Regions from separate parts of the Homo sapiens genome. Here region 1 is linked to region 2. Evidence: fine-mapped expression QTL. A gene starts in region 2. The other region holds a variant in brackets. All regions are shown on one strand. Distances are from middle to middle.

Region 1 (5,361 bases), 26 kb before region 2:
CTCTAAACCTGCTTCAGCAGCACTTTCAGTAAGCAGTGCCAGTCAGGGAGGAGGCCCTCCTGCCATGGCTGCCCTTCTTGTTCAGCCACCTGCCTGTCTCCTTCCCTTTGGGCCTGGCTTTCTACTTTTTCTCTCTGTGCACTCTTCCATTGCACCCAGTAGCAACAACACAGAAAGCCAGTGTTTACTGGCCTCTTACTATGTACTATGAACTCTTCCAAGCACTCTACATGTGTTAACTCACTTAATCCTCATAAAAGCTCAATTAGGTGGATGCTTTTATCATCATCCTCATTTTGTGGGCAGAGAAACTTAAGGCTCAGAAAGATTAAGTCATTCAGTCTGGTTCTAGGGTTTGTGTCCTTTTTTTTTTTTTTTTGAGACAAGGTCTGGCTCTATTACCCAGGCTGGAGTGCAGTGGTGCGATCTTGGCTCACTGCAGCCTCTACTTCCTGGGTTTGAGCCATCCTCCCACCTCAGCCTCCCTAGTAGCTGGGACTACAGGCATGCACCACCACAGCTGGCTTTTTTGTATTTTTTGTAGATATGGGTTTCACCATGTTGGCCAGGCTGGTCTCTTAACTCCTGGCCTCAAGTGATCCACATGCCTTGGCCTCCCAAAGTATTGGGATTACAGGCGTGAACCACTGCCCAGCTAGGGTTTGTGTTCTTAATCATCACCCTATATTGTCCCCAGGTTAACTCCCTTTCTAGTTTTTTTGTTTGTTTTGAGATGGAGCCTCGCTCTGTCACCCAGGCTGGAGTGCAGTGGCACGATCTCAGCTCACTGCAATCTCCACCTCCCAGGTTCAAGTGATTCTCCTGTCTCAGCCCCTGGAGTAGCTGCGATTACAGGCATGTACCACCGCACCCAGCTAATTTTTTTGTATTTTTAGTAGAGACAGAGTTTCACCATGTTGCCCAGGCTAGTCTCAAACTCCTGATCTCAGGTGATCTGTCCACCTCGGCCTCCCAAAGTGCTGGGATTACAGGCATGAGCCACCGCACCCAGCTGCCTTTCTAGTTTATTGAATGGAACTTCGACAAACACAAAACTTGGAACTAGGCCGGATGCGGTAGCTCATATCTGTGACCCCAGTTTGGGAGGCCAAGGCGGGAGGATCACTTGAGCCTAGGAATTCAAGACCAGCCTGATCAACATAGTGAGACCCCGCCTCTATTAAATTTAAAAAGCATATATACTTTTAAATATATATCATATATATACACAAAAACAAAACTTAGGCTGAGAAGTAATGTTGCAAAGCACACACTTGGCTTCAGTATGAGTAGCTGCTTCATTTTCCAATGGGAAAAAAAAAACAAAAAACAACCCTGAGCAGTATAGTTAGGAGGCACTGAGTCACTGACCACCATTCAATTCCAACCAGCCTCTCAATGCAGCCCTCCCTGCTTCTTGAATTCTGCCCCAGAAAACTCATCCCTGTCTAGGACTCAGCCCTGAGGGGCTGGGCTGGAAGGCTGCCTGCCCCGTGCAGCCTCTCCCACCGTAGAAGTCCTTTCCGTCCTGGTGAAAAGGACACCTTCCTGCCCGCCCACCATGTCTTCCTTGGAAATGCCAGGAAATGGGCTCTGTGCTGATCCAGCTATTTGGGAGCAGTGTCATGGACATGGGCAGAGGGACAGGCTTATCAGCCAGTGGTGTCTGAGTCTCCCGACCTCCCGGTGGGGCCTTCTGGGCCCTGCCGGCTCTTCTGTTTTCCAGAGACCAGACCTTCCTCCCTGTGGGAGGACAGGGTACCACACAGAAGCGGACAGTGACAGTGCTGTACCCGCACAGAACTAGTTTATTCAGTAGTATGGGGCATGAAAAAACAACAACAACAAAACGCTACCCTATTTACAGCAACAACCAAACTGTACAATCTGATGGTTAGTACCAAGTTAGCATCCAGCATCTTTGTATTTTTTTTAAATCAAGTCATCAGTAGTAAAAACCAGTTAAATTTTTAACCCTTTGCAGGAATTGCTGAGGGGAGAAGACGGGGGAGAATCCACGGCAGAAAAGCCAGAGGCTGGCCTCACAAATGAGAAACAGGAGCCTTTCTTTCCTGCCCACAGCCTCTTTTTCTAGCCACCTGCTCCAGAAGGAAAGTCAGTGACAAGTCTGGAATACATGCTTGGAGTAAATGGTGACTCAGATGAAAAGCAGTCGGCAAAACTGAGGAGAGGGGAGGAGAGGTGGGGAGATGATGGCCTGGGGCAAGGGGAAGGGCGTCAAGCCCCCAAGCCAGGGCTGCTGGGAACACCCAGCCTGTGATGGCCATATCAGACCCCCGGGACTGGACACGAACCCATCCCAACACAAAAAGCAAATAAATAAAACAAATATATTAACTCTCTCTTCACAGGGAGCTGGGGTGGAGTCGGGGAGAAAGAGGAACAGGACCTGGTCCTTTGAAGAAGAGAGCCAATTCCAAGAAGGGGTTAAAAATAGAACATGTCTCAGAGGCCACAGCAGGTTAGACAAAGTAGCATTTGTCTGATTTTGGGGGGTGGGGTGGGTGAGTGGACACCAGAACCCAGACTTGAAACCTGTGCTTGATTGAGCACCCTCAGGGCAGCCGAGCCAGCACTGTGTTTACTCTTCCTCCCCCACCCACATCACAGCAAAGAAGCGCAACTTAACACATGACTGGCCTGCCCGGGGCGCGGGGCGGGCACGAAAAATGAAGCACTTTTGGGTCAGCAACTGAGCAAACACCTGGGCTGCCGCGCACGGCCAGAGTCCAGGAAAAGGAGAGGGGCTGGGGCTGCCCGACCCCCGCCTGGGGGCACAGGCTCCCCTGAAAATGTGTTCATGCAGCATTTGGGGGTCCAGGGGCGCTGAGTCCTTCTGCCCCCTCACCGGACAGGGCTTTTCCAGTTCCTGGGAGAGGCAGTGCGGGCAGGACGAGGCACACCCTTTGCCCTGGCCCCTCACCGTTCTGAGGCCTGCCCGGGTGCAGCCTGAAGGGTGTGAAGCCCTGGCTGCGTGTGGCTTTGTCCTTTCCTTTTGGTGATGGCGTATGAGGGGCAGGCCCCCCAGGAGTCCCTCTCCTCCCAGAGGCACAGCAGATGGGAAACTGAGGAGAGGCTGGGAAGCATCCTGGGAGGTCCTATCCTCTTTGGGAAGGGAAAGGGGAGTCAATTTCCAGCGTATAAAAAAAATGAATCCCTGAAGTCATGAAGAGTGGAGATCCTTTTTTAAATTCTTTTTTTCCTCTTTTCTGAAAAACTTTGTCTTGGAGATGTTGGCCCCAGGGGTCCAAAGTGCAGTGAGGGGAATGGTGGGGGGGG[A/GA]GTTGGCACTAGATGGCCTTAGGTGGGGTGAGTACCCCTCCCGGCAAGGCCCAGGCTCCTCAGATGGACGTTTCGTCGCTGCTGCGGGCAGGCGATGGGGAGCGGGGCAGGATAAAGCACAAGACAGGAGCAGGGCATGAGTGCGGCTGGGGAAGGGAAGGGAGCCTCGGGCGTAGGAACCACGGCCCAGGGTTAATGCAGGAAGTTAAAGAAGAGAAATCTGGAGAGGCAGGAAAGGAAAGTGGCAGAAAAGGCAGACAGAGGGTTAGTTGAAACAGAGGAGAGAGTGAAAGCTTTCACCAGACGAAGGAAACAGGAAAGCACCCCCAGCTCCCCATCCTCCCGCACTCTGCCCTAGGCTGGGCTGCGCCGCGTAGAGCCTAGGAGGGGTGGCCCTCCCCGCAAGGCACCATGGTTTGTGGGCACGGCATAGTAAGGGAGCTGGGCCAGTTCTGCCCATTTGTCCTCCAAATGCCATCCAGAGTCACCTGGGGAGGCCCGGAGGCAGCTCTGGGCCCAGGTGAGGCCTCCGAGGGGCTGCACCCCGTCCCGCCCACCCGGCCACACTCACTCGGAGCCTGACGAGTCCTCATCCACCGTGCCTGCCTTGATGCTCATGGCGATGGGCATGACCCCGTTCAGCTGCTCCTGGAGGCTCTGCCGGGGCGGTGGGCGGGGAGGGGGGCCTCCCCGGCTGCCCTCACTAGCGGAGGAGCCCCGGGAAGACCCTGTGCATTGCTCCAGGGGGAGCCGCAGGAGGCTGCTCTTCTCGCTGATGGTGGGCAGACACTTCTTCTTAAGGATGCCTGTGGGCCGGGGCGGGGCTGTGAGGTGCGGCCACAGGAGAATGTGAGGTATGAGGCTGCTGACTAGGGGAGCTCGGCAGCTGGGGGTGCCCCACTCACCTTTGTGAGGCTGGGCAGAAGAGCCTGGAAGGGGGCCTAGGGACCCCTCTCGAGACAGGGCATCTCCATTCTCCCGCAGCCGCTCCTCAGGGGCCCCGTTGCCACTACTCTCTTTTGCTGTGGTCCCAAAGTCTCCTGGCCAGGGGGCCTTGCCAGGCCCTGGGCCCCCATCTGGTGGGGAAAGGAAGTAGATGAGGCCCACAGAGGGCAGATAGCCAGGAGGCCACCACCCCAGTCCTGCTTCCCAAGAACCCCAGGCCCACTGTCCTCCCACTGGCCCCAAAGGCCACAGCCCCAGTGCTGGCCCACCCTTGGGAGTACTGTGCAGGGGCAGTCTCTCTGCTCCAGGCCCCAGCAGGCTATCCCAGCCCTGCTCTCCAGGGAAGGCGGCCTCCTCTTCCTCCTCCTCTTCTTCCTCCTCACTGTCTGATGAGTGGGTAGAGGCATAGGAGCCACTCTGGTCGTCTTCTAAGGACAGGTCACTGTCGGAGTCCGTGTCAGGATCTAGGAGGCCAGGGAGAGATCACAGCCAGCCCAGCCACCTCCACCCACCTTCAGTAAAAGCCAGCCAACTGCCCTGCTGGGTGGCCAGAGCGTTCTGTCCTCACCATGCTGCTGGTCTTGACCTTCCAGGAACAGGCTGCCTGGATCCCCCAGGCCAGGGGGCCCTTGGCCAGGGTTCAGTGCGGACTCCTCCCTAGGAAGATGAGACCATGCTGGAGGGGTCAGCCTGGCCCCTTGCCCAGGGTCCCAGTCTCTCCTCTCCCCTGGGATCCTGGTTCCTGCTGTGGGTCCCTTACAGCTTCTAATCCAAGCTGGCCCCCACGTCAGCCACAGTGTGTGCTCCTCAACTCCCAACAGCTGGCTGGCCTGGGTCCAGCATGCGTGGGCCCCTCCTCCCCTCCTCCACCCTCCCATCTCCGGGATTCACCTCAGCAAGAAGGGGATGTAGCTGGGCTGACTCTTGCCCGAGCGACTGGTGCTGTGCAGAGAGCCGGCCGAGTCTCCGTAGGGCTGGTACAGCCGCCCATCTGCGTAGGGGCTGGGGCAGTTGTAGGACTAGGCAGGGAACAGAGAGGTCAGTAAGTGGGGAGTGGGATGGCTGGCCCCAGGCTGGGAAGAAGGAGGGTGGAGGGAACTTGCCCTAAGTTCCACC
Region 2 (5,361 bases):
TGATGACACTATGAGCATCACGGTCCACAGCTGACACCGTCACCACGCTGGTGCCCACAGCTGCATCCTCATTGAGCCGCACTGTGTACTCTGGTTGGGTAAAGGTTGGATTGTTGTCGTTGACATCCAGGACAGTCACGCTGACACTGGCCGAGGCAGTGAGTGCTGGAGTGCCATGGTCTCGAGCTTCTACCCCAAAGCTGTAGAAATCAACTTCCTCCCGGTCCAGTTCAGCAGCCACAGAGATCCAGCCTGTGCCATTGTTGATGGTGAAGGGGAAGTCATGTCCCACCCCAGCAAGGCGGTATTCCAGGCGGGCATTGTCACCAGCATCAGCGTCGATAGCCTGGACATGGAGAACCAGGTAGCCTAAGGGGACACTCTCCAGGACAGTAGCCTGGAAAGGGGTGCTGACGAAGATGGGGGCATTGTCGTTGATATCCAGGACCTGTACTGTCACCAAGCCAGAGACATTAGAGAGTGGGGGACGGCCACCATCCTGTGCTCGCACCCGTAGGGTGTACTCCTTGGTCGTCTCATAGTCAAGAGGGCTCACCACATCCAGAGCTCCAGTCTGGGCATCCAGATAAAACTGTCCCCGAGCATTGCCACTCATGATGCTATAGTGCACCACGGCATTGCTCCCCTTGTCTCGATCCGAGGCTGTGACTCGGAGTACTGGGGCCCCTGGAGTCACATCCTCCCTCACCTGGACCACATAGCGCTTCTCACTAAACTGGGGGGCATTATCATTGTCATCCTCCACAGAAAGGAAAACAGCGGCTGTGGTACTCCGAGGACCCGGGTCCCGACCCTGGTCACTTGCCTCTACCGTCAGCTGGTAGGATTCCACCTCTTCCCGATCCACAGGGCCACGGGTTCGGATCACCCCAGAGCGAGGGTCGATCTCAAAGACTTCAGAGGGGCTGCCCCCAGACCCCTCCAGCAGGCGGTACAGAATATTGGCATTGGGAGGGGCATCACCATCCGTGGCCCTGACAGTGAGCACCTCATAGCCAACCTCCAGGTTCTCCCTGAGGCTCTCCTTGTACTCCTGCTGCTCGAACACAGGGTCATGGTCATTGGTGTCAGTAACCAAGATGGTGAGTGTAGCCAGGGCACTTCGTCGGGGCATGCCGTGGTCCTGCGCCGTGACCCTGAAGACGTGGGTGCTCTTGGTCTCACGATCCAGCTCCTCGGCTGTGGTTACTGCACCAGTGACTGGGTCCAGGGAGAAGAACTGGTTGGAGCGGCTATCAAAGAGGGCATCCATGGTGTACTCCAGTCGACCTGCCTCACCCTCGTCCGGGTCGATGGCCCTCAGGGATGCAACAGGGGTGCCTGCTGGCTGGTTCTCCGGCACTGTGGCCTGGTAGCTGGGGGGCTGGAACTGGGGGGCTGTATTTACATTCCTTTTCCGACGCCCACCCAGGGACTCTTCTGGTGACCTTTCCCCTGCCCTGAGCCCGGGGGCCTGTGCCAGCTTGCAGGACTGGCATCTGAGCCGTGGAGCCTTTAAGCACGGGTGCTCCTCGGGCAGTGTGAGCTTGCCCTGTGGGGAAAGGTGGCCTCCAATGCCCAGGAGGCGACAGCTCCAGGGGCAGCCTTCAGGAGCTGGTGGTAGGGGAATATGGGCCTCGGATTCTGGACACCAAACCCTCAGGCCATCGTGGTGGGGTACCAGGTGGCCAGTCAGCTCAGTGCCCGCATCCCTGCAGCGGCTGGTGTAGAGCCAGAGGTTCGACGCTGAGGATGGACAGAGCCAGCCCATGGGGGCGCAGGCCCCCGAAGAGCCTCGTCCCCTGGACCCCAAGGAACGACAGGGCCCCACTTGGTCTCCCAATAGTGGCGGCGGCAGCAGCAGCAGCAACAGCAGCAGCAGCGGCGGCGGCGGCGTTGGGAGGGGGACGCCGGTGGCCGGGCTCCGCATCTCTCCCAGCTCCCGGCCGGCGGCCGGGTCAACGGCGGCGGCGGCTCCTCCTCCGGCTCCTGCCGGCCCCGCCGCGCCTCATGCCCGGGCCAGGGCGCCAGTCCCCGGGGGCCTCCCGTGCGCCCCGCGGGGCCTGCGTCTGGATGGCTCGGCGGGACCCCGCGCTGCACCCTCCGACGAGCCCGGGCTCCCACTGCCCCCTGAGCCAGACCCGCTCCCGGGTCACCCTGAGCACCGCGGGCTGCCGCCGCGCCTCCACCTGCGCTCCGGGCACTCACCACCTGCGCCCGGGGGCCCCGCGGCGCCCCTGGCCTTGCCGGGCCCCGGGTTCCGGAGCCGGGGTGCCCCCTCCGCCCCTATGGGATCGCCCACCTGCGCCCGCGTAGCCGTGCGCCCCGACCCCGGCCCGGCCCCGGCGGCCCCCGACGGTCCCGCGCCGCCCGCTCGCGCCCCGCGTCCCCGCCGCGGCTGCTGCCTGTCGCCGCGGCCCCGGGCCCAGCCCCGCGCTCCCTCGCCTCCCCGGCGGGCGGGCGAGCTCTGCAGAGTCGCGGCGGCGGCTCATTACCATAGACCTGCTCGCGCCGCGGCCGCCTTAAAGCGGCAACGCCGGCCGCGCTGGAGGAGGTGGGCCCCACCCAGAGCACTCCTCCGCCCAAAGCGCCAGGATTCCCTCCAGCAGGACCCTCCATCCCAATTTCCCCAGGCCGGCCTCGCCAGATGCCCGGTGCGAATTAGCGATCGGAAGCCACACAGCCGATGATAATCATGGTGGAAGTACCCTAAGTATGCCTAGAGGTTTCCAAAACATTTTAAGGGCTCTCAGAGGCCAAGTTTCCAGTTCATTCCAGTCATAAAAGCCCTCGTTGCTGTCCCCTCCCATAGGTCAGACAGAGTTAAAAGGGCCCTGAGCAACACAACAAAGCCTCCAAAATCCCAGAGAAGCACCCACAATGAGTCACCGGGCCCACTCGCTCCCTACCGTCCCCTCCACCCCACCAGCGAGGCTGTTGTCTGACCAGCATGCCCCTTGGGGTCGGGCTGTTGGAAGAATGACCCCAGCCTCATGTTGGACACCACTTGGGCTTTTCCAGGGAAGTAAATTAGAAGGGTCAGAGTGGGTGGAAGCCAGGTGGTGCAAACACACTGTCACCAGATTCGGAGGCCGGCTGCGGTGGAGCCTAGCTTTAACACAGGCTTCCTGGATTCTAGACAAGGGGCTTACACTGCCCCCTGAGGTCCTGTCTAGAGAGGCGGCCTCTCATCCCCTCCTGCCTCCCTGTCCATGTCCTGCGGCTACCCCCTCCTTCCGCCACAGTTTTGTGACCAGCGAGGAGGCCTACCTGGTACCCGGGCTCCTGACCCTCTCCAAGGCAGCTTCATTTGAGAGGGTGTGCAGGATTCCAGGGGTTCTCCAAGAGGACCAGACATGAAGCTGGACCACACGGAGAGCCAGGCAGGAGCCGTGCAGGCGACCCAGAAAAGGCTTCCCTACATCCTGGAGCAGCCAGGGGCCCAGTCAGGTAGTCCCTGGGGGGATGCCCTGGCCTGGGGGGATGCCTGGGCCTGGGTCCCAGCCTCCAACACCACAGCTATGTGACCTTGCTCAAATTCTGTGCCTCAATGTCCCTTTTTGTAAAATGAGGGGATTGAATAAGGTGAATGGTTCTCAAATGTTTATTTAGCAGTAGAATTCTTTTCTTCAAAAGAAATCTGAAGTGGAAGGCCAGAATATAGAACAGATGAGTAGTGCTGCTGGGTTGAAGTGAGGGGGTCAGGGCCTTGCCCCTCTCCACCACTCCCCCAACCAAGAAATCCCTGGGCTGCTCTGTGCAACTTGAGGGTCTGGAGGAACCCATCTGAAAAGCACTGGATCAGGTGCTCCCTTCTACCACTGCCCCCGGTCACAGTGGTGCCACTCTCACTGGGTCACAGCAGAGGATCCCCCAGCCCCAGGCCCAAGGAGTGTCTGTGTGACCACACAGTGAGGCCAAGGATGAGAAATCAGCTTTTCTCTTTTCCCCTGGGGAAACAGGAAAGGAGATGGGCCTTGGGTACAGCAAGAAAGATTAGGGTTAGACTGTGCTCCTGGCAGGATGGATAGAAGTAGGAGGAGGACCCATGGCTCAAGGAAATGCCCTCCCCTTTGACCAAACAGGAGCTTTCTTCCTCTGAGCAAGGCCAAGGGCAGCTCTGGAGATGGAGGCGTGGGTTACACGCCTCCGCAGGGCTCTGCCTCTCTAGACTTCCTCAGACTCTGGAGTTTGGAAGGATCTAGGGGCTGCGTGGGCATTTTGTTCTTCACCTAATAGCCATGTGGTGCAGAGAATGCTTGGAAATTATACCATCTGTTAATTATCCTTTGAATTGGGGTTGGGTAATGAGACTCTCATTTCTGGTGAAGGCCCAAGCCAACCCGTGGAGAAGCTGCAACTCTCCATTCATCTCGCTCCCTTTGTTGCTAAAATAAGCTTTCTGGGTGGGAGGAAAGAGTAGCCCTGGCTCTGGATCACGGAAGGTGGTTCTGGGGCCTTGCACCTTGAGGCAGGGGTTGCCAGGGAAGGCATGAGCTCAGAAGCCCCTTCCAGGTGGGTGGCCTTTCCACCCAAAGGCAGATAGGTTGGGGGATCCAAGGAACCCTTTCCTTCATCCCCAAGCACATTTGGCAAATAGTCCTTAATCCTCCCCAGTCCTCCCTCCGGGGGCACAGGACAGAGCTCTCTCCCCATCACTTCCTCAGATACTTCCAACTCCCAAAAGCAGGAGGGAAATTTCCAAGTTTCATATGCATCACTGAGAGTCTCAAATGAGGGAGGGGTTGCCCTGGTGGAGGCCTCCCTGATCCCCAGGGAAGGGCTGCCTGCTTCATGGAGCTTTCCAGTTGTAAGGAACCTATGGACCTCCCTCCTGTGTGTAAGGGACATTTAGGCCTCCCTTCTGCATAGCTTTTAGGTGCTATCAAGGGGCAGCAAGGGCTTGGGGTCTGTTAAAAGAGAATTTATTGTTCTTCTAGTCCAAACCTCCCACTTCACAGTGGAGGCTCTGGGAAGGAAGGAAACCTGCTTGGCTAGCCTTGCGGCTGTCCTTTAGCTCTGGTGGGATTTCCTTACTCAGGTTGCTTCCTGAGGACCCCCTGGATAAGGCATGGCCCTGGCTTTCAACACAACAGGGTCGCATGGGTGAAGTGCTCCAGAAGCAACTGAGAGAAAAGGCTAAAGGAATTCAGAGGACAGAGCAGTGAGGGTGGAGGAAATCCCAGAGGGCCTCTAGAGGAGACGGGACTTGGGCTGCATCTTCAAGAATCAGGAACAGCATTCCTGGAAGAGGAATTCATCAGTTAAGTCACTTAATCTACACATTAAGTGTCTTCTCCATGATTATACAGCTAGTAATGGAAGAGCTAGGATTTGGACCCCGGCAATCTGACCCCAGAG

Direction of the effects. Positions count from the first base shown, and alleles are read on the strand shown. Sizes are in standard deviations (SD) of each study's normalised expression.
As copies of GA replace A in region 1, the expression in sun-exposed skin of the gene that starts at base 2,471 in region 2 goes up (small effect, 0.20 SD a copy in GTEx).

What was found. PIP is the estimated chance that this variant, and not a neighbour inherited with it, causes the effect.
Region 1: its variant is fine-mapped to the expression of CELSR2 in sun-exposed skin (GTEx, PIP above 0.99). The same link has a PIP of 0.9 or more in esophagus mucosa.

What each region holds. Positions count from the first base shown.
Region 1 is chr1:109,272,181-109,277,541 of GRCh38, reverse strand. It overlaps CELSR2 (cadherin EGF LAG seven-pass G-type receptor 2), which reads right to left. Exons shown (of 34, transcript NM_001408.3): 29 at 5,137-5,264; 30 at 4,814-4,902; 31 at 4,515-4,709; 32 at 4,206-4,376; 33 at 3,872-4,106; 34 at 1,791-3,520. The coding sequence ends at 3,493. Among named protein-coding and RNA genes, the nearest start is that of PSRC1, 8.3 kb to the left of the region's middle. RefSeq lists enhancers at 1-75, 1-117, 1,259-3,290 and cis regulatory regions at 2,574, 2,559-2,578. The variant A/GA (reference allele first, on the strand shown) is at 3,301.
Region 2 is chr1:109,246,649-109,252,009 of GRCh38, reverse strand. CELSR2 (cadherin EGF LAG seven-pass G-type receptor 2) reads right to left here and starts at 2,471. Exons shown (of 34, transcript NM_001408.3): 1 at 1-2,471. The coding sequence starts at 1,930. RefSeq lists silencers at 824-1,014, 2,113-2,212, 2,373-2,432 and an enhancer at 2,434-3,154.